Regions from separate parts of the Homo sapiens genome. Here all the other regions are reported to be linked to region 1. Evidence: microRNA targets listed by miRTarBase, many of them from high-throughput screens and not tested one by one. Region 1 holds a microRNA gene; each other region holds the end of a gene's coding sequence. Distances are from middle to middle.
The links. Region 1 holds the annotated microRNA hsa-miR-544b (ACCUGAGGUUGUGCAUUUCUAA, at 1,277-1,298, opposite strand). A microRNA usually pairs through its seed, bases 2 to 8, with sites in the 3' UTR of a target mRNA and lowers its output. Matches are read on the target gene's strand: a 7mer-m8 pairs with bases 2 to 8, a 7mer-A1 pairs with bases 2 to 7 and ends in A, and an 8mer does both.

Region 1 (5,429 bases):
TGTAGCTCTCTCAGGTCCTTACTTCCAAGATGACAAAGAAAAGAAAGGAACAATGATCGTGCCAAAAAGGGCTGTGGCCAGTAGTGGCACATACTATGTCCGATGCATGCCCAAGGAAAAGACCATTAAGAAGCTCGTCGTGCAAAACATAGTAGAGGCCGCAGCAGTCAGGGACATTACTGCAGTGAGCAACTTTGCCTCCTATGTTCTTCCCAAGCTGTATGCGAAGCTACATTAAGGTGTGAGTTGTGCCATTCACAGCAAGGCAGTCAGTAATCCATCTTGTGAATCCCACAAGGACCAAATACCCCAATCTGATTTAAACCTGTGGGTGCTGCCTCATGACCCTCACCAAAGCCCATGTAAGGAGCTGAATCCTTAAGGACTGAAGAGAAACTATTCTCTTGAGGAAAAGAAAATGGAAATTGTACTTTTTAAAGAAGAGAATTCTTCTGTATATCATTAAATTATAACAAGCATATGATTAATTCAAACATGATTTGCAAATTTTGACAGAGAGATAAAAACAGATTTGGAAAATGCATTTTTAGTGAGTTAATGCTACCTTTCCTCTCCAATTACTTTATGTACACTAATGTGTATATAGTACTATAGTCAAATATCACTTATTATCACTTATTAAGGGAAGTTAGAGTTTAGCATAAATTATATTGCTTTTTGGGGTGTAAATACTGAGAAATTCTATTCGCATAAGATGTGAAAAGAAGTTTTGTTATACCCAAGTCTCTCCATGTTTTGAACTCCTCCCCAGTTAATCACCAAAATACACACACACACACACACACACACACACACCATGATCTAGTTATCAAAAAACTTTTTCTGTCATTTATCAGCTGGCTTATTAAAATAAATCAATTTTTCCCTAGAAAATCCTTAGTAATTCTCCACATTGCTAAGATACACCATAGCAAGATTCTGGATGGTGAGAAGTTAATGGTCCAAAGTACCGCAACCTTAATAGTCCAACCTATCTTCAATACTTTTTACAATAACCACACAAAGTGGTCCCTAGTGAACATAAACCCTTAAGTGGGCTGAGGAAACTTATATGTCTTCTTGATAGAACTTTCTGCAATGATGGAAATGTTCTCTATCTTTGCAGTCCAATATGATAGCCACTGGCCATATATGACTATTTAAACTTAAAAATTCATAATGCTCAATAGTAACACGTGGCTAGTAGCAAACTGTATTGGAAAGCATATTTACGGCCCTCTACTCAGTGTGGTCTGCAGTTTCAGCTGGCACTTTGTTAGAAATGCACAACCTCAGGTCTAGTCTCAGAGCTACAGAAATGGATTCTGCATTTTAACAAAATTCCCAGGTAATTCATATATACTCAAAGTTGAGAAGCACTGTATTAGAAACCTCTAATTTGTACAAAAATTTTCCTTATATTGACTAAAAACCTGCTTTCCCAATATGTCCACCTTCTAGTCTTAATTATTGCTTCTGGCCGCACAGTGCAAAATTCAACTCCCCTTTCCAAACAGCCCTTCCAAGTGTGGACCTAACAGGAAGAGGCTGAGGCAAAATTAATATGAGTAGTTGCCCTGACTATAGGCTTCGATTACAGTAGTTACAAGTGGATTTTTAAAGCAAAAGAAGGGGCAGTTCCTATATTCACCAAGAATTTGCATTGAAATAACAGGAGGTAGCCCGGGGGTGGCACCAGGCATTTGTAGTCCCAGCTACTTGGGAAGCCGCCAAGGCAAGAGGATCTTTTGAGGCCAGGAGTTTGAGACGAGCCTGGGCAGTATGGTGAGACCTCCTCTCTACAAAAAAAAAAAATTTTTAATTTGGTGGGCATGATGGCACATGCCTGTAGTTCCAGCTACTCAGAGGTTGAGGTAAGAGGATCTCTTTTTTTTTTTTTTTTCTGAGACAGTCTCCCTCTGTTGCCCAGGCTGGAGTGCAGTGGCTCAATTTCGGCTAACTGCAACCTCCTGATTCTTCTGCCTCAGCCTCCTGAGTAGCTGGGATTACAGGTGTGCACCACCATGCCCAGCTAATTTTTGCATTTTCAGTAGAGACAGGGTTTCACCATGTTGGCCAGGCTGGTCTCGAACTCCAGACCTTAAGTGATCCACCCGCCTCAGCCTCCCAAAGAAAGCCTCCCAAAGTTGGGACTACAGGCATGAGCCCCTGTGCTCACCCGAGGCAAGAAGATCTCTTAAGCCCAGGAGTTCCAGGCTGCAGTGAGCTATGATCACAGAGCTGCACTCCAGCCTGGGTGACGTAAGAGAGATCCCATCTAAAAAATAAATAAATAAAATAATAACACAAGCGATTGATTAGCTATACATTGTTCTTTGTATCACACATTCCAGGTACATTAAGATAATGGGAGAGGCAGCTAGTCAGGGACAAAATTCCTTTAAATAATTGTCCCGGGGCTGCATAGGGGAGTATGGTTGAAGTCTCTCTGGGCTCTGATAAATTTTGTATACATCACAGAGTTCTGGTTGTTCTATTTTCCTTTTCTCACCAGTAATTTCCCAGCTACTGAATTCTCTGCCTACCCACGTTTTCCCGGTCTATTTGTTTGTTTTTTGAGGGCAGGGTCTCACTTGTCGCCCAGGCTGGAGTGCAGTGGCGCAATGACAGCTCATTGCAGCCTTGACCTCCCAGGCTCAGGTGATCCTCCCACCTCAGCGTCCCAGGCGTGCGCCACCACACCCAGCTAATTTTTTGTAGAGACGGGGTCTCGTCATGTTGCCCAGGCTGGTCTCGAACTCCTGGGGCTCAGGTGATCTGCCCACTTAGGCATCCCAAAGTGCTGGTATTACTCTCATGAGGCACCACGCCCGGCCGCAAGTCTAATTTTCTTAAAGAGTTAAATATACAGAATTCATTCAAGTGTGCTTCAGTGCCAGAAAGCGTTCCAAACTGGGTTTCCCGACTTTTGCAAAACACGTGTCTAAGCGTGTGGGTGAAAGAACAGACGACTCTCGAGGAGCCCAACCCCTGGCCTCTGTGCTTCTCATGCTTACTCCCCAAACCAAGAGTAGGGTCGGTCTGCCTGCTTGGCTCTTTTGCTCTCACTCACGGCCCAACTCCTGTCACCCTCTTCCATTTCCTTGTCCTCCTTCCCGCCACCAAGCCCTGTCCTTTCCCTTCCTAGGCCAGCACCTGACTCAGAAGACGCGGTCGAGACACGATGCCCCGCAGATCGATGTAGATGGGGGAGGAAAGCCCGCTCTTCAGCACGAAGTCCCCAAACTTGAAAGCCTGCACGTCGTACAGACCCGTCACCAATGGCCCCAAAGCTGCACGAGCGACCGCCATTGTCGCGCGCTGCCTGTTTGCTTCAAATTCCCAGGCGCCCCGGGCCTCCGGCGCCCCGATGACGTCACCCGCGAAGTCCCGCCTCTTCCGCCTGCCTCGTCTGCAGCTTTCCCGGCTTGCTGCACCCGTGGGTTTCCCCGGGCTCAAGGGTCAGGTGGATGGTAGCGAACCTAGCGCCAGTTTGTGCTTCTCCTGGTTTCTTCTGGATGGGGTCGCTGGGGTTCAAAGCCCAGAACAGCTAGATTGACTGTAGGATCATGAAGTCCCACCTTTCATGAGAGTTTGCATAAATCCTGTCCATTTTTTAATAGCCAATGCCTTCTCGACTAGTTCTCTTAATTATCTCTACTCCTTGGCCTAACATGTTATATTTGCTAGTTATTAGCCAAGATTTACCCCCCATGTTTCTCCAAATAGAATATAAGTTATCAAAGACAGGGACCTTTACTCAATTCTTTTATTAACTTCATAGCATCTAGTACGTGACAGTTCCATAGCAGTTTGCACATAGGAATATATAGCACTTAGATCATTACAGTATTCATTACCTCTTTTGTCTGTACTCTGCTTCCTGGAGGAGTACTTTTTTATTTCCTTTGGCGTACCTCAAATGCTTAGGTAATAGGTGTAGAAAAGGTAAGGGAGGGAAGGAGGAGAGTTAGAAGACGGTTAATTGATTGGTATCAGGGTTATCCAGGAGGATAATATTGCTAGACAATCTGAAAATCCAAACATATTTGGTCTTTACAAATAAATCCCTTAAAGAAATAATCAATAAATAATCTGTACAAATAAATCCCTTCTCCATTGTGTATATAAGGCAATACTTTATTCTAGCTTAAGGAAAATAACCCTTAAATTCACATAAAGAATGAAACCTTGTCATTTGCAGCAAGGTGGATGAACCTGAAGGACATTATGTTAGTGAAACAAGCCAGGAACAGGAAGATAAATACCAAATGTTCTCGCTCATATGCAGAAGCTAAAAAAGTTGATCTCATGGAGCTAGAGAATAAAATAGTAATCACTAGAGGCTGGGAAGGGTAGGGGGTGGTTAAAGGACACAAATTACAGCTAGATAGGAGGAATAAGTCCTAGTGTTCCATTGCACTGTAGGGTGACTGTAGTCAATAATAATTTACTATATATTTTAAAATAGCTAGAAGAGGGGCGTTTGAATGTTCCCAACACAAAGAAAGGATAAATATTTAAGGTGAGGAATATATGAATTACTCTGATTTGATCACTGTACATTGTGTGTATTGAAATAGCACTATGTACCCAATAAATGTGTACGATATCATGTGTCAACTATAACAAATACTTTTTTAAAAAAGAGGAACAGATAAGGCATAGCTGTATAGTGCACTACAAAGAACATGAAGTTTCAAACCAAAACATTTGGATTTTAGTCCCATTCTACTTACTGGCTGAGTGATCTTTGGCAATGCATTTTGAGCTATATGAGTCTCAATTTTCTCAAAAATAGAATGAAGAAGCCGGGCGCGGTGGCTCACGCCTGTAATCCCAGCACTTTGGGAGGCTGAGGCGGGCGGATCACGAGGTCAGGAGATCAAGACCATCTTGGCTAACATGGTGAAACCCCGTCTCTACTAAAAATACAAAAAAATTAGCTGGGCATGGTGGTAGGCGCCTGTAGTCCCAGCTACTCGGGAGGCTGAGGCAGGAGAATGGTGTGAACCCGGGAGGCAAAGCTTGCAGTGAGCCGAGATCGCATCACTGCACTCCAGGCTGGGCGAAAGAGCCAGACTGCGCTCAAAAAAAAAAAAAAAGAATGAAGATAATAATATTAACTTTCTCCAAAAATCACTATGAAGATTCAATAAGATAGTTCACTCAAAAACACTTGATAAAAAGTTGGTAGAGCTGAGTGTGGTGGCTCATGCCTGTAATCCCAGTACTTTGGGAGGCCGAGGGAAGTGGATCACCTGAGGTTGAGAGTTCGAGACCAGCCCAGTCAACATGATGAAACCCCGTCTCTACCAAAAAATACAAAAATTAGCCGGGCATAGTAGCACATGCCTATAGTCCCAGCTACTTGGGAGGCTGAGGCAGGAGAATTGCTTGAACCCCGAGGGGGTGGAGGTTGCAGTGAG
Region 2 (5,181 bases), not on the chromosome of region 1:
TGACACTATTATTCAAAATTACAAAACTATTTATTAGGGTTAAAACTTTCTAGATGTACATAAATAGAAAATCAATGTAAAATATACATGCAAAAGATACACATTTCTACAATGTTCAGTGAAATCTTGATGCTGAACATCAGATACATTTCAGATGCTGTATGTGTACAAATTCAACTTTCCTATGTATATGTGGTCACTTTATTTTGTGCTGTGGACCAGTAAATACATATGCAAGAAACAAACCTTCGACATGCCATTTGATTCTGAAAAAATGTCTTTGGATTATCCCACCAATCATATTGATGTTCTTTAGAACTTCACTCTCACTAAACCATACAGCAGCATGTGGGAGAAAAGTTCATACAGAAGGAGGAGGGACTTACTTCTCCTCCTTGCGATTATTATTGCGATTAAGGATTATTATTAATTCTTAAAGATTAAGATTATTATTAATTATTAATTGTAATTATTAATTCTTAAAGATTATTAATTATAATATTAAATTATATTATTAATTCTTAAAGATTATTAATTATAATATTAAATTATAATTATTAATTCTTAAAGATTATGAATTATAATATTAAATTATAATTAATTCTTAAAGATTAAGATTATTATTGTGAATAAGAAGAAAAATGATCTAATTTAATGTAAAAACCCTCCAGTGACATCATTGTTCATTATTCTCTTTTTCTTTTATATTACCTCAAAAATTCCTTAGATATAAACAATTACAGAAAACATAACAATAGCACAATATAAAAATTCAAGTCCTTCAACTTCCAGTTATAGCATTGTACAAATTTGAGTGTATGCATGTTCTCTTTTGCATGTTCACATTACACATTCAAGGCTGATTAGTAGCAGCAGTGTTTCTCAGCCCAATGCCATCCATTGATTTAGCATTCTATTCCTTCCAGAAACCTAGTCATCCCCAAACTGAGAACTTTATATAGTATGTTCTACATTACAGGCCATGAAAATGTGCTGTATCCATTTATTAGTATGAACAGTTAATGACACACTATTGAATGCTTCTACTTAATTGTTTCATATAAAGGCTTTAACACAAAGGAGGTAGAGGATCTGTGGCTTATACAGAAAAATTATTATGTTTCAAGCTGGGCACTTAATTCAAATCTTATCCTAAGTCACGCATCATTAGACAAAAAGCCTGAGGAACTGAAAGAACCATGTAAACATTTTCTGCTTTCAAAATGCTTAAAGAAGTTTTAGATTAATGGGATTTGATACTTTTAATGATGTCAAAGATGGTATATAAGTGCCTTATTATTTCATTGACTTACTGCCAAATATTGAAGGCAATTCATGATTACTAATTTAATCTTTTCTGATTATGAAAATCCATTATAGCAAGAAAAAATATAAAGTTCAGAAAAGTAGAAACTATTTATTTAAAAATTAGAATATATTTATACAAACAGAATGTTTGGACATGGGCTTAAAATTCCTCTGGAAGGCTGGGAGCAGTGGCTCATGCCTGTAATCCTAGCACTCTGGGAGGCCGAGGCAGGTGGATGACCTGAGGTCAGGAGTTCCAGACCAGTCTGGCCAAAATGGTAAAACCTTGTCTCCACTAAAAATACAAAAATTACCCGGACAAGGTGGTGCATGCCTGTAATCCCAGCTACTTGGGAGGCGGAGGCAGAAGGATCTTTTGAACCCAGGAGGTGGAGGTTGCAGTGAGTCAAGATTGAAACACCGCACTCCAGTCTGGGCAACAGAGCCAGACTCTGGCTCAAAAAAAAAAAAAAAAAAAAAAAAAAAAAATTTCCCCTGGAAGGATTTGTTACAAGATTATAAAATATATTTGTGTGTATTAATATTAGAACCATTGTTTCATCCTCAAATTACAGAGATCTTGTTTTTCATTTTTTTAAACTCTTATTATTCTCAATCACAATCATAATACATGATGCAATGTAAACCTTAAATTATTTATTTAATCTTACTACACTAATCAGCTAACAAGATCTCTGTCTTCTTAGATCTTGGAGCCTGGAAAAACCCAGTTATTAATCCCCACTATCCCTTCCCAAAATTCTCTGGTTAGCTGACATGTTAATAAGATTCCAAGAATGTTCTAAAGAAAGCAAAATCACCACAAAAAAGGACTGTGTTCTGAAAGTAAAAACTGTGCTTTTTTTTCCTTCTCTCATAATTTATTTTTAATTAAAATAAATTCTGTCCTTGAATGTGTATACATAATTATTTGGTCAGGCTGTGTTCCCTTATAATCAAATATAAATACTGAAAGCCGTACAGATTATTCCTTTTTTTTTTTTTGAGACAGCCTGTCACCCAGGCTGGAGTGCAGTGGCATGAACTCGGCTCACTGCAAGCTCCGCCTCCCGGGTTCACGCCATTCTCCTGCCTCAGCCTCCTGAGTAGCTGGGACTACAGGCGCCTGCCACCACGCCCGGCTAATTTTTTGTATTTTTAGTAGAGACGGGGTTTCACCGCGTTAGCCAGGATGGTCTCGATCTCCTGACCTAGTGATCTGCCCGCCTCGGCCTCCCAAAGTGCTGGGATTTCAGGCATGAGCCATCGCGCCCGGCCAAGATTATTCTTAAACGCCAATTTGAATTACCATTGCCAGCATACCAAATATCCCAGGGTGGGTATATTAAAAGCCCTAAAAAGATTCTGCTTTTACTTTTTAGCCAAATGGACATCTTTTATTCAGGTTCCCAAAACAAAATCCTTCTTTGGCTTACCCACATTTCTTTGAGGCTGTGTGTTTTCTTTCTAAATTCTAGCAGCCTTAATGGCCCTAATGTGGCTTCTTCTTGCTCCATCCTCATCTCAACCTTGAATCTTTTATCCTTTCACTCCTTCACCCCTGCTATCTGCACCTATTCAGCTCCCACCCATCTAAGAGCTTCAGTGCTTTGTGGGATCACCGCTTACACCCCACCACACCAGGACAATGCCTACTCTTCCTTGAGGTTCATTATTTCTTTCCAAGAACAAATTTCCCTGACCCACCCCCACTTCCAGTTTCACATGATGGCATCTCTACGTTTATATCTCGTAGCATCACAGCCTCTCCATTGCAACTGTTAGTATGCATGCCATTTTCTATTTAACGGTGTCATTTTTTAAAATTATCTATTACTTAGCACTACTAAAGTCAGAGTTCATGCTGGTTTTTTCCCATTAGCCTCAAGCATCTATATGCCTGCCAAAAAATAGACACATATACTCTACCTATTGACTGAATGACAATAAATGAATGTCTGTCCAAATACACACATAAACACTGGCAGGCAACCAGAGGATTGAACAGAGGAGTAAGCAAAATACATCTCTTTGTGAACTTTGTCAGCCATTAGCATTTATACTGACCCAGGGTCCTATACAATTTTTGTCCTATATAATCAATTAGGCTGTGCTTTATAAAACACTGTGGTACACACACACACACACACACACACACACACACACACATGTGTTTGCATGAGCATGCCAACATAAAGATATCAGTGTTTTCGGTGGTTAAGACCTCTCTACTCAACAGGGTAATCAAGTTAATCAAGTTTCTGGTGGTGGTGGTTTTTAATAACTCGTATTATTAAAAATCTCCAAGAGCTAAAGAACTATTTTACATTACAATCCTGCAGAAAAAGTCCCAAATTAGGCAGGATTAGAGAGGTCCCAAGATGCTGAAGGGAGCTGATGAAAACACTAGGTCCATGCATGCAGACAACAGATTTCTGATAAGTCATATTTTCCTTCTGTCAGTCTTTCAAGAGACGATGAAAAAGAGTAGCAAGTCTCACTTAAAATGAAACGGCAACTGTTTCCCTGTAAGTCTTAACACGCATTTTGTTTTTACTATTCTGTTATGCAGTATGATTTTTTAAAAAGAAATAGAAACAGGTTTTTCAAGCAGAAAACCTACTTTGTACTGGCTATGTAGCCTCAGACGTTCTCTCCACTTCTGAGTTTCTCCCCATGAAAAATGGGGGTGATGCTGGTGAACCCCACTGATGAACTGAAGAGGTCAGGTGTGGAAAGCGGGCAGCCGTGACTGGCCACAGGGTGTGTGCTTGCTTCCCCTCTTTCTAGCTGCCTCCTGGGAACACTGCCTTGATCATGTTGATAGTCTCTAGTTTACCCAGATATCTGTGTGATGTAATTATTCAAACAGCTTTGACTTAGTAAATTTAAAATAACACTGAAAGAGAGAGAGGGCACTTTTCTTTTTTCTTTCCTTTCTAAGAACAAAGCAGCCTAATACTTGTATTTGAAACATACACAAAAATACATATTTGAGGATAAAACCCATCTTGGTTATCAGTTAGGCTGTGCTTTCATCAGGAAAAAAAAACTGGTTTTGAGCATGAAGAAAATTAATATAATGCTTTTCTGAGATTCTTTCTTTCCTACACACACACACACACACACACAGACACACACACACAGACACACACACACAGACACACAGAGACACACACAGACACACACAGACACACACACACACACACCATTACCTCATTTTCCCTCCCATCAAAAACACACGCTTTGTTTCTATACTTCCTCAGAAGTGGAGAATGCAGTTACTCTCAAAACCTCCAAAGAATTTACTAGTATTAAAACTCCAGTTAATTCTCTCCAGTGTTTAGTCACAGGGTTTTTCATTCTGTCCAAAGCTGACTGAAGGTCTTGTAACACATCTCTGTAGTTATTTCCATAGTGAGCACTCCAGGTATACAGAAAATCATAGGCAGGTTTCCACATCATCTATAAAGAAAAAAAATAGATTGGAGTAGTGTGGAAGTAGAAAGGAGAGGAAAATCGTTTTTAAAAAAAAGATGTAAAAAGCCTCTTAAGATTTAAGATAAAACGGAATACCAATTACACATGGACTTATTTGATGTCATAGAAAATATGGTTTAATAACTATCAGCTTCCTGTTATATCCCTGTGTTTTTAAAACTAGAGATTTTAAAAATAATAACTACAAATAGGGCCTTTTTTCCCTTGATCCATCATCTATACATTGCTGTTGCTTTCATGTGAATATAAAATTCCTTGCACAATTTTTTGATGGTAACAAATGTTATTGAGATAGGCTTTTTACTATTTGAGAGACTTTTAGAGTTAATTATTATTATTATACCTATCTGTGGTGAGTTTTATGACACCAAA
Region 3 (5,181 bases), 12 Mb from region 1:
AAGAAAACTCAACAAGGTTAAGCGAAGGAATACAAATCCACCTCTTGAAGAGAGAAGTGGTAAAGTCACATTGCAGGACTTGTGTACAAGGATGAATTGTTATAGCCATTTTTGAAAACCTAGATGTATTTTCTTTATTTCCTATTGAATTCATTGTGGCAGGATGGAGGCATTGGAGCAAGCAGGGTATAGGGAGGGTGTCCGATTTTCCTTTTCTTGCCAAGTGCTCCTAGGCCAGAAGTTGGGGAGCTGTCAGAACAGGCCAGCTCCTGGGATACAAGGGGGAATTCACAGGGCCTACCATCTCTGTATCAGGTTGGGCACTGCTTATACTGCTGGCCCCAGGGATGGTGCCCAGGCTGAGCAGAAGGTTGAGGGGTGGCATCATCTCGGGATGCAGATGATCCACTCCCTTTTCTGTGCTTCACCAGGGTTTGTGGATGACATCATCCAACCTTCTTCCACACGTGCCCGAATCTGCTGTGACCTGGATGTCTTGGCCAGCAAGAAGGTACAACGTCCTTGGAGAAAACATGCAAATATTCCATTGTAAACAAATCAAAGGAAAAGAAACCAAGAACTGAATTACTGTCTGCCCATTCACATCCCATTCCTGCCTTTTGCAATCATGAAACCTGGGAATCCAAATAGTTGGATAACTTAGAATAACTAAGTTTATTAAATTCTAGAAAGATCTCTTTTGTGCCTTACTGTAAAATTATTTACTTTTTTAAACATTTTAAGTTGTATTTTTTGAGCATAAATTCGATTTTTTTAGGTGGAAATCTGAAAAATCAATACAACTAGAAAGAAAAATAGTACACAGTGTTATCATCTAGAGCTGATTTTTATTTCACACCTCTGGGTATTGTTCTTTTTCCTCTCGAGTTAGTTTTTTTATCCATAGGTGAGATATATAGTAAGTTTTTAAGGCAAAGTATTTCTTAGGCTTAAGTTTCCTTATTTTAAAAATAGGGTAATATGCCCTATCTATCTCCTAATTCCTCCATGAATTGAGGATTAAATGTGATGTTTGCAATTGTGGTATATGTGTTTAGCAGTACAGATGCTCAATAAGGCATAGCACCCTATGTTGACTCAGGTTATTTCCAGAAATGTGTTCTTAAAATTAAAAAAAAACTTTTTAATTGCGAAAATTTTCAAGCCGATAGAAATGTTGCAAGAAGTGTATTGTATCCACTTCACCTAGATTCTCCAGTTGGTAACATTTTCTCCATTTGCTTTATTTCTTCCATACGTAGATATATCTAATAATATATAATATGCATATAAGATATATCTAATTATATTATTAATATAATTAATGTATAATTATATCTAACATGATTATATATATTTATATATTTATATTATGTATTTATACATTATATAATTATATAATTGTATAACATATACAATATAATTATTTAATTGACCCCTTTGAAAGTCAGTTGCAGATTCGTGACCCTGTGTTCCTAGAAACTTGTATCTCCTAGGAACAAGGTCCTTTGTCTTACATAGTCTGTCGTTCATGACGTTGACATTTTTGAGGAGAGCTTACTTGCTGGTTATTTGGTAGAGTGTCCTTCAGTTTGGGATGTCTGTTTCCTGAGGTTTAGATTCAGATAAGACTAACACATATTCCTTTCAGTGCGTCACATTAGTAAGCACATTATGTCAGTTTTTCCTCCTGTTGGTAACTGATTCTGATCACATGGTTAAGGTCGTGGCTGCAAAGGTTTTTCCATGGTAGTTACCATTTTCTCTTTGTAACTGATAACTAATTTGTGGGGTATTATTTAATCTTGTCTGTCAATAAACTTTCACCTGGGCCAGGCGCAGTGGCTCATGCCTGTAATCCCAGCACTTTGGGAGGCCAAAGTGGGCAGATCACCTTAGGTCAGGAGTTTGAGACCATCCTGGCCAACATGGTGAAACCCCATCTCTACTAAAAATACAAAAATTAGCCGGATGTGGAGGCACATGCCCAGCTACTCAGGAGGCTGAGGCAGGAGAATCGCTTGAACCTGGGAGGCGGAGGTTGCAGTGAGCCGAGATCACACCACTGTGCTCCAGCCTGGGTGACAAAGCTAGATTCTGTCTCAGAAAATTAAATAAATAAACTTTCACCCAATAATTTTAGTATTCATTGATGATTTTTGCCTCAATCAATGATTCTGCATTGATTATAAAATGTTGAGTTTCTAACTCTCTCATATTTATTAGTTGGAACTCTAGGTAAGGAAGGGAGCTTTCTTTTCTCCTGTTTTTGTTTTCTTAGTATCATTTTGGACTTGATTTATTTTATTTTATTTATTTATTTTTTGAGAAGGAGTCTCGCTCTGTCGCCAGGCTGGAGTGCGGTGGCGCAATCTCGACTCACTGCAACCTCTGCCTCCCAGGTTCAAGCAATTCTCCTGCCTCAGCCTCCCGAGTAGCTGGGACTACAGGTGTGTGCCACCATGCCCAGCTAATTTTTGTATTTTTAGTAGAGACGGGGTTTCACCATATTGGCCAGGATGGTCTCGATCTCTTGATTTCGTGATCTGCCCGCCTCAGCCTCCCAAAGTGCTTTTAATATATCCCACTGATTTTTTTAGTATTTCGTTATTTTCTGACAAGATAATGCTCTAGGCTTATCTTGTATTTTCCTTGCCCAGCCCAGGAATCAGCAGTTTCTCCAAGGAGTTTCTTTAATAGGTATGTAGTAGTAGTATATAGTAGTTTCTTAGTTTCTTTTAGTAGGTATGTCATTTAGAAGCTAAAATTGGCACTAGGTATTCACACTGATACTGGATATCATTGCTTTGAGGCATTTCAGCAGACAGAACTAGGAAAATTTATGCAAATAAGTGTGTGTATATATATGTGGGACACATGTATATATGAATACATATTTATCATACTTTTAAATCATGAGTTCATACTGAAACTTTTAATCCAACACCATGGGTGCTTCTTTGCCTTCCCCCATTCTGTATTGTCTCTCTTACCACAGCAGTAATAACCCTGGCTCCCATTATTCTCAATATATTTCACTCATTTGCTCAGTGCTACCATAAATACAAGTTTCAGAATCACTACAGCTCTATCAACAATAAACCTTCTAAAGTTCACGACTTCTTTGTAGTTCATTTTGTCTTTAAACTGAAGATACATGGTTAAGCTACCTCAATTAGTAACTGAGTGGTTATCAATATGAATTAGTCCTTTTTGTTTGTAAACCACTTTAAAGCCTTTCCTCCTACACTGTTGACTTGATTTTACTAAGTTAAAACATTAATAGTTTTACCGAACTGGAGATTAAGTTTGAGCAGAAGTACCAACCATGGAGTGCTGATCCAAGATGCCCCCCCACCTCAGGCATCCTCTCTGGTGAAACCCCAGGGCCCTCCCACTACTGATGGCTTTCCCTTGGCTCCAGAGATCTGTAAGCACTGCTTGGACAGTGAATCATTATTTCAAGGTCAACTTAATGTGTGACTGTTTATTCTCCACTTTTCCCATTTCAAAAATATTTTCCCCTACCCCCCATTCCCAGTAGCCCTTAAGAGTCATTCTTTTTTTTTTTTTTTTTTTTTTTTTCTTAAAGCATCTTTCCACTCTCCTTCAGTCACCAATCCTAGTTGGGCTCTGAGGACTTTTGCAGCAGTCTCTTCACTGATCTCTGTGGCCTCCCACTGAGCTGGAAGTCCTGTTCTCAGCTACCATACTAACTCCAGATCCAGATTTTGTTGCATTCCTCTGCTCCAGCGCCACTTCCAGAGCTCCCTGTTCTCCAGAGTCCTTAGCCCACGTAGGTGGTCCTGGACAGTCTGTCCCTCCCTTGCTTGCCTAGTGAGTTTTCTGAGCCCACAGTTCTTGTTTTCGTGATCTCTGCTATGGTCCATAAAAGAGTACATACAAGCTCTTTTTTTTCTTTTTGGAGGTAAGAGTCCAAGAAGTGTTTCACCAGGTTGTGCAGTCTGGACACCGAGATGGTAGAGGGGCTGTAAGATGGTAGAGGAACCAGCTCAGGAGAGCAGCTGGGCTAGCAGCTTTACGGAAGCCTTGGATGGTGGGGAAACTCCCGTACAGAAACTCAGCTGGTCAAAGAAACTCAAAGCCACAAGACCTTGGAAGCTTTGTCAAGTGGACCAGCCTCCATGGACCACGGAATACCTTGAGAGTAATGACAGTTGAGTGTTCTCTTGTGTGGGAATGCCTTCCCCAGCTGGTGCCCTCACCTTAAAGGGAAAAAGAAAATACACTGAATTTTGTAAATGGGAAATACTTGGGTCCACTGAGCTGATAGCTGACAAGTGTCTGTCTTTAAACTGAGAGCAGATAATATGGTGAGCTGTGGTGTAGGAAGCACTGCTAGGGTCTTGCTGGTCCTGCCCCGCCTTGTGTTAATCCAGTTCCTCCTGAGCTACACAGCTGACAAGTGGTGAAGCTGGGATTTGAACTCAGATGGGTTTGACCCCAGCCAAGCCTGTGTTCTGATCATTTCAAAGTACTACCACTCAGCTGATGAGGAAGGTGAGATGGACTTCTAAGGGTTGGCCTAAGAGTAGGGGTGAGGGAGGTTGGTGGTCTGTTCCCCTGGGCTTGTCTTAACCCAGAAAGCTACTACATTTAGACAGCTTTCCTATCTCCCGCATGATTCTCTTGCAAAGCAGTACCAACAGATGGCCAGTCATCTTTTTGAGTTGCTAGAGTAATGGGGAGCACATCCACAATACACCCTTCTAATGCTTGTTAGAAAGTGCTTTTGTTGCAAAGTTCTTCTAGCTTCTTTTTTTGACCCTGTCTTGGTCTCCCCAGCCCAACTTTCTGCCTCTGGTTGCACTGATACTTTGTCCTGGTGCTGGTGCTTAAGATGTGGTCTGCTCAGCCAAAGAAGTCTGTGAAGGATACTCACCCACATGTGGAGTTGATGAATCAGCCCTCTTCACCTATTCAACAGATGTGACTGTTTTGTCTTTCTGGTTCCAAAGGATTTCTGGAGAGCTATGACTTTACCCTTTTAGAAGTATTGGTCCTCATACTCTGTGCACCTCTGATGTCAGCATGGGATTTCTACAATTCCAAGCAGGAGTTGCAGCCACTTGATAGGCAGTGCCTCAGTCTGGGGCCTCTGTGGAATCCAGCTGGCATATTCCAGCCAATGTGGCAGCCTCAATAGTTAGTTAAGTTTTG
Region 4 (5,181 bases), not on the chromosome of region 1:
GATTTCCTCACATACATTTTTTTTCCTACTTTTCCAAAGTAAGTTTTTCTTCCCAAAAAGGTTTAAATGTCTTAAAATTAATTTTGCACCAACCTAATATTATAGCCAAGCAACCACAACCTATTATAAAAAAGTTCTCGTCCTTGGCCACAGAATTCTATTATTAAAATAAACATTTCTGTGACGCAAAAGGACTTACTTTTAGAAAACACATCTATCTTGCATAAATTCCATATGTTTCACATTTTAAAAGATTTATCTAAGTCTAATGTCAAGCTTATTTTTAGGTAGGATTGTGCGGCTGACTTTCCTGTTCAAAAGTAAAGTTGGAGCTGTTTCAAAGAGTAACTTTATTCTGCTTGCCTGTGGCTGTTTGTACCACAGAAGGCAGATTTGTCAGGTGCGGTGGCTCATGCCTGTAATCCTAGCACTTTGGGAGGCCAAGGCAGGAGGATCGCTTACAGCCAAGAGTTTTAAGACCACCCAGGGCTACAAAGCAAGGCCCCCATCTCTACAAAAAATTAAAAAATTAGCCTGGCAGCTGGGCACGGTGGCTCACACCTGTAATCCAAGCACTTTGGGAGGCCAAAGTGGGTGGATCACCTAAGGTCAGGAGTTCAAGACCAGCCTGGCCAACATGGTGAAACCATGTCTCTACTAAAATACAAAAATTAGCCAGGCGTGGTGGCAGGCACCTGTAATCCCAGCTGCTTGGGAGGCTGAGGCATGAGAATCGCTTGAACCTGGGAGGTGGATGTTACAGTGAGCCAAGACCATGCCATTTCACTCCAGCCCGGGCAAAAAGAGTGAAACTCCATTTCAAAAAAAAAAAAAAAAAAAAATGGCCGGGTGCGGTGTCTGTAATCCCAGCACTTTGGAAGGCCAAGGCGGGTGGATTACCTGAGGTCGGGAGTTTGAGATCAGCCTAATCAACATGGAGAAACCCCATCTCTACTAAAAATACAAAATTAGCCTGGCCTGGTGGCGCATGCCGGTAGTCCCAGTTACTTGTGAGGCTGAGGCAGGAGAATCGCTTGAACCTGGGAGGTGGAAGTTGTAATGAGCCAAGATTGCACCATTGCACTCCAGCCTGGGCAACAAGAGCGAAATTCCGTCTAAAAAAAAAAAAAGAAGAAATAAGATAAAAAATAAATTAGCCTGGCGTGATGGCACACACCTAGTGCTTGGCTGCTTGGGAAGCTGTGGTGCGAGGATCACCTGAGCCCAGGAATTCCAGGCTGCAGTGAGCTGATTGCGCCACTGTACTCCAGCCTGAGTGACAGTGAGACCCAAGAGCAGCAGCAGATTAGGCAACTTGGCAAAGCATTTCTTCTATACTGGTCCATCTTTGTCAAACACATGGCTTACTTATGAAGAAGACAGTATTAGAATTGAAATCAGTATTAAAATTAATTAAAAGACCAATCTTATAAATCAGAACCTAAAAACACTGGGACACAAACACAAATATTATCTTGAAATTTCTTCTTTATAACCACATTTTCCAAAGGAGGAAACATAAAATGTTCAGAGAAAAGGTTCAAATATCAGTTTAACAATGTGCTCTCTTTTCAGTATATACAGGTAAGTTTTTTTCTTTTCTTTTTTGAGATGGAGTTTCGCTCTTGTTGCCCAGTCTGGTGTGCAATGGCACCACTGGCTCACTGCAACTTCTGCCTCCCAGTTTCAAGCTATTCTCCTGCCTCAGCCTCCCAAGTAGCTGGGAATACAGGCATGTGCCACCACACCAGGCAAATTTTGTATTTTTAGTAGAGACTGGGTTGCTCCATGTTGGTTGGGCTGGTCTCGAACCCTCGACCTCAGGTGATCCGCCCACCTCGGCCTCCCAAAGTGCTGGGAATACAGCCATCAGCCACCGTGCCCAACCAGTTTTTTCTTTAATGATTGTATAGAGATAACAGTACTATAATAAATAAGTTAAATGTTAGAAACATCAACATAAACTAAACAAAGATAATTTCTGACCATCCATAACTTTTTCTAGTTGGCACTGTTTTGATTGCCCAAGAGTACTTAGTGGAAGGCTGCTTGCTGTTCCAACTAAAACAATATTTCAAGGATATGAAAAAGTGTGTAAATTGAGTTTCACTTAAATTATTTCACAATAAAAGTGATTCATAAAAGTTGATTAGTCCGGGCATGGTGGTTCACGCCTGTAATCCCAGCACTTTGGGAGGCAGAGGTGGGCAGATCCCTTGAGTCCAGGAGTTCTAGACCAGCCTGGGCAACGTGGTGAAACCATCTCTACAAATACAAAAAAATTAGCCAGGTGTGCTGGTGCATGCCTGTGGTCCCAGCTATTTGAGAGGGTGAGGTGGGAAGATCACCTAAGCCTGGGACTCGGAGGTTGCAGTGACAGTGAGCCGCGATCGTGCCACTGCACTCCAGCCTGGGTGACAGAGTGAAACCCTGTCTAAAAATAAAAATTTAAAAAAGAAAGAAAGAAAAAAAGGCTACGCACGGTGGCTCACGCCTGTAATCCCAGCACTTTGGGAGGCTGAGGCGGGCGGGTCACGAGGTCAGGAGTTCGAGACCAGCCTTACCAACATGGTGAAACCCCATCTCTACTAAAAATATAAAAATTAGTCGGGCGTGGTGGTGTGCACCTACAATCCCAGCTACTCAGGAGGCTGAAGCAGGACAATTGCTTGAACCTGGGAGGTGGAGGTTGCAGTGTGCCCAGATCGCACCATTGCACTCCAGCCTGGGCAACAGAGCAAGACTCCATCTGAAAAAAAAGTTGACCCTGGGAAAAAAAAAAAAATTGACCTGGCGTGGTGGCTCATGCCTGTAATCCCAGCACTTTGGGAAGCCAAGGTGGGTGAATCACCTGAGGTCAGGAGTTCGAGACCAGCCTGACCAACATGGTGAAACCCCATCTCCACTAAAAATACAAAATTAGCTGGGCGTGGTGGCACATGCCTGTAATTTCAGCTACTTGGGAGGCTGAGGCAGAAGAATTGCTTGAATCCGGGAGGGAGAGGTTGCAGTGAGCCAAGATTGTGCCACTGCACTCCGGCCTGGGCAACAAGAGTGAAACTCTGTCTCAAAAAAAAAAAAAAAAAGAAAAAAAAAGTTGATCTTCTCTCACCTTTTATCAGCTTAAAAAAAATCTAAAGGCTATTTATGTAACCCAGTTTGTCAATGGTTAGCTCTGTAATCTGAGGGCAAATACTTATCCTTAGATTTATCTCTGAAATAAATCACATAATTTGTAAAGTGACTTCCAACTCTAAAATTCCATGACTATTTGTATTTTACTAGGTACATGCTACTTGATTTCTTTGCATTGAAGCTATCTAAATCAGGAAGGATGCACAGCAAATAAAAATGCCTTAGTCCCACTGACGAGCAGAAAAGAAACACACACACATACATATTTTAGGAATATATATTTTTAAAAGGATTCAATAATCTTTTTAAAGCAAAATCAAAGTATGGCTACAGGAGGAGAGGAAATATCCAAATTGTAATCAATGCAGATTGTTTACTTAAGGCCTTATATTTGTACCTGTATAAATACCATATCACAGCACAAAAACATACCCCATCTGGCTCTCTTAAGGTACATGATAAATCAGACTAATGCACATTCATCAAAGTGGCATCATCTCAGGATATGTGCATATTTGACGTGGGTATGAATTCAGGGTTTCCTTGGGTCTCTTTCAAGGACTCTCCTTTCTCGTCGGTATTTCTATTTCCTTATTTTCCTTCTGTTTATGAAGAACTGTTATTTTTATATTTAATGCCCAATTTTCACTACTTGTTCATGTCAGTTCTCTGAAATGTTACTGCCTATGAACCGTGACATGTACTCTTTATAACAGAACCAGAAGTTAAAAGATGTAGACATCACACAAATCAATGATTATTTTAAAAATAGAAAACAATGATAAAAATTCAGTTGCCAACTTAGAGGATTTTATACATTATGAAGTGTTCTATTTTCCTTCCAGGGTCTGAAATTTATTTCTCAAGAAAACAGATTTTATTTCTAAGCCTTTACTATCTTTGCTAGAAACAGAAAAACCAGTTTTCTCTTTGACAAAATTGTCCCAGGAGAACAACACAAATGCTTTTTCCAAATTAGAGCATAAGTCTTCCTTAAATGTCCTAGTGTGACAATAAGGATACAACAGCCATCTTTTAAATGTCATGAAGGCTATTGTTAAGACGGTGTTTTTGGCCGTTTTGCAGATGGTCCATCGAAGTTAGTTCTGTTATCAATGTTATTTTCATCTTCTGCATCATCTTCATCATCACCTTTTAAAATAAATATTTGTTGTATGACAATACGTTCTATGGCTGAAAGAAATATATATAGCTAAAGTGGTTGATAATGAGACCATTTCACTTTAGGGATTAATAAAACCTGCACATTTTAGATTAAAATGATTTTGAGAATTTCAGTGTTTAAAATCTTTATTTTCTATCACTTTCCTCTTTGGAAATATTAGTTCATTCACCATAAAATCCACTCTTTTTTTCTTTTTTTTTGAGATAGTCTTGCTCTGTCGCCAGGCTGGAGTGCAGTGGCACGATCTCAGCTTACTGCAACCTCCGCCTCCGGGGTTCAAGCGATTCCTCTGTCTCAGCCTCCCAAGTAGCTGGGATTACAGGCACGCGCTACCACGCCCGGCTAATTTTTTGCATTTTAGTAGAGATGGGGTTTCACCATGTTGGCCAAGATGGTCTTGTTCTCCTGACCTCGTGATCCGCCCGCCTCGGCCTCCCAAAGTGCTGGGATTACAGGTATGAACCATTGTGGCTGGCCAAAATCCACTCTTTTAAAAAGTGTACGGCCTAGTGGTTTTTAGTATATTCACTAGCTTGTGCAACCATCACCTAGAACACTTTCATCACTCCAAAGAGAAATGATATGCCCATTAGCAGTCGCTTTCCATTCCCCTCAGCCTTCGGCAACCACTAATCTACTTTTTTTCCCCCTTATTAGAGATAGGGTCTTGCTATGTTGCCCAGCTAGACTCAAACTCCCAGGTTCAAGTGATCCTCCTGTCTCAGCCTCTAGAGTAGCTGGGACTACAGGTGCCCACCACTGCACCTGGCTCACTAATCTACTCTATCTCTATGGATTTGCCTATTCTGTACATTCATATAAACAAAATCATGCAACATGTACCCTTTTGTGTCTGGCTC

Region 2: the mRNA of MACC1 is a reported target of hsa-miR-544b. Seed matches in the 3' UTR shown: 7mer-A1 at 2,409-2,415, 7mer-m8 at 1,549-1,555 and 7mer-m8 at 1,180-1,186.
Region 3: the mRNA of PCCB is a reported target of hsa-miR-544b. The part of its 3' UTR that is shown has no 7-base or 8-base seed match.
Region 4: the mRNA of GON7 is a reported target of hsa-miR-544b. The part of its 3' UTR that is shown has no 7-base or 8-base seed match.

Annotation. Positions count from the first base shown.
Region 1 is chr3:124,728,355-124,733,783 of GRCh38, reverse strand. MIR544B (microRNA 544b) reads right to left here and starts at 1,345; the gene lies at 1,268-1,345. It overlaps UMPS (uridine monophosphate synthetase), which reads right to left and starts at 3,332. Exons shown (of 6, transcript NM_000373.4): 1 at 3,157-3,332. The coding sequence starts at 3,312. It also overlaps the pseudogene RPS26P22. RefSeq lists enhancers at 3,253-3,662, 3,075-3,674.
Region 2 is chr7:20,136,386-20,141,566 of GRCh38, forward strand. MACC1 (MET transcriptional regulator MACC1) reads right to left here. Exons shown (of 7, transcript NM_182762.4): 7 at 1-4,773. The coding sequence ends at 4,561. MACC1-OT1 (MACC1 3' UTR overlapping transcript 1) reads right to left here and starts at 4,041. Exons shown (of 6, transcript NR_110114.1): 1 at 3,932-4,041.
Region 3 is chr3:136,329,474-136,334,654 of GRCh38, forward strand. It overlaps PCCB (propionyl-CoA carboxylase subunit beta), which reads left to right. Exons shown (of 15, transcript NM_000532.5): 15 at 432-696. The coding sequence ends at 553. Among named protein-coding and RNA genes, the nearest start is that of PCCB, 82 kb to the left of the region's middle.
Region 4 is chr14:93,199,496-93,204,676 of GRCh38, forward strand. It overlaps GON7 (GON7 subunit of KEOPS complex), which reads right to left. Exons shown (of 2, transcript NM_032490.5): 2 at 3,399-4,287. The coding sequence ends at 4,193. Among named protein-coding and RNA genes, the nearest start is that of GON7, 5.0 kb to the right of the region's middle.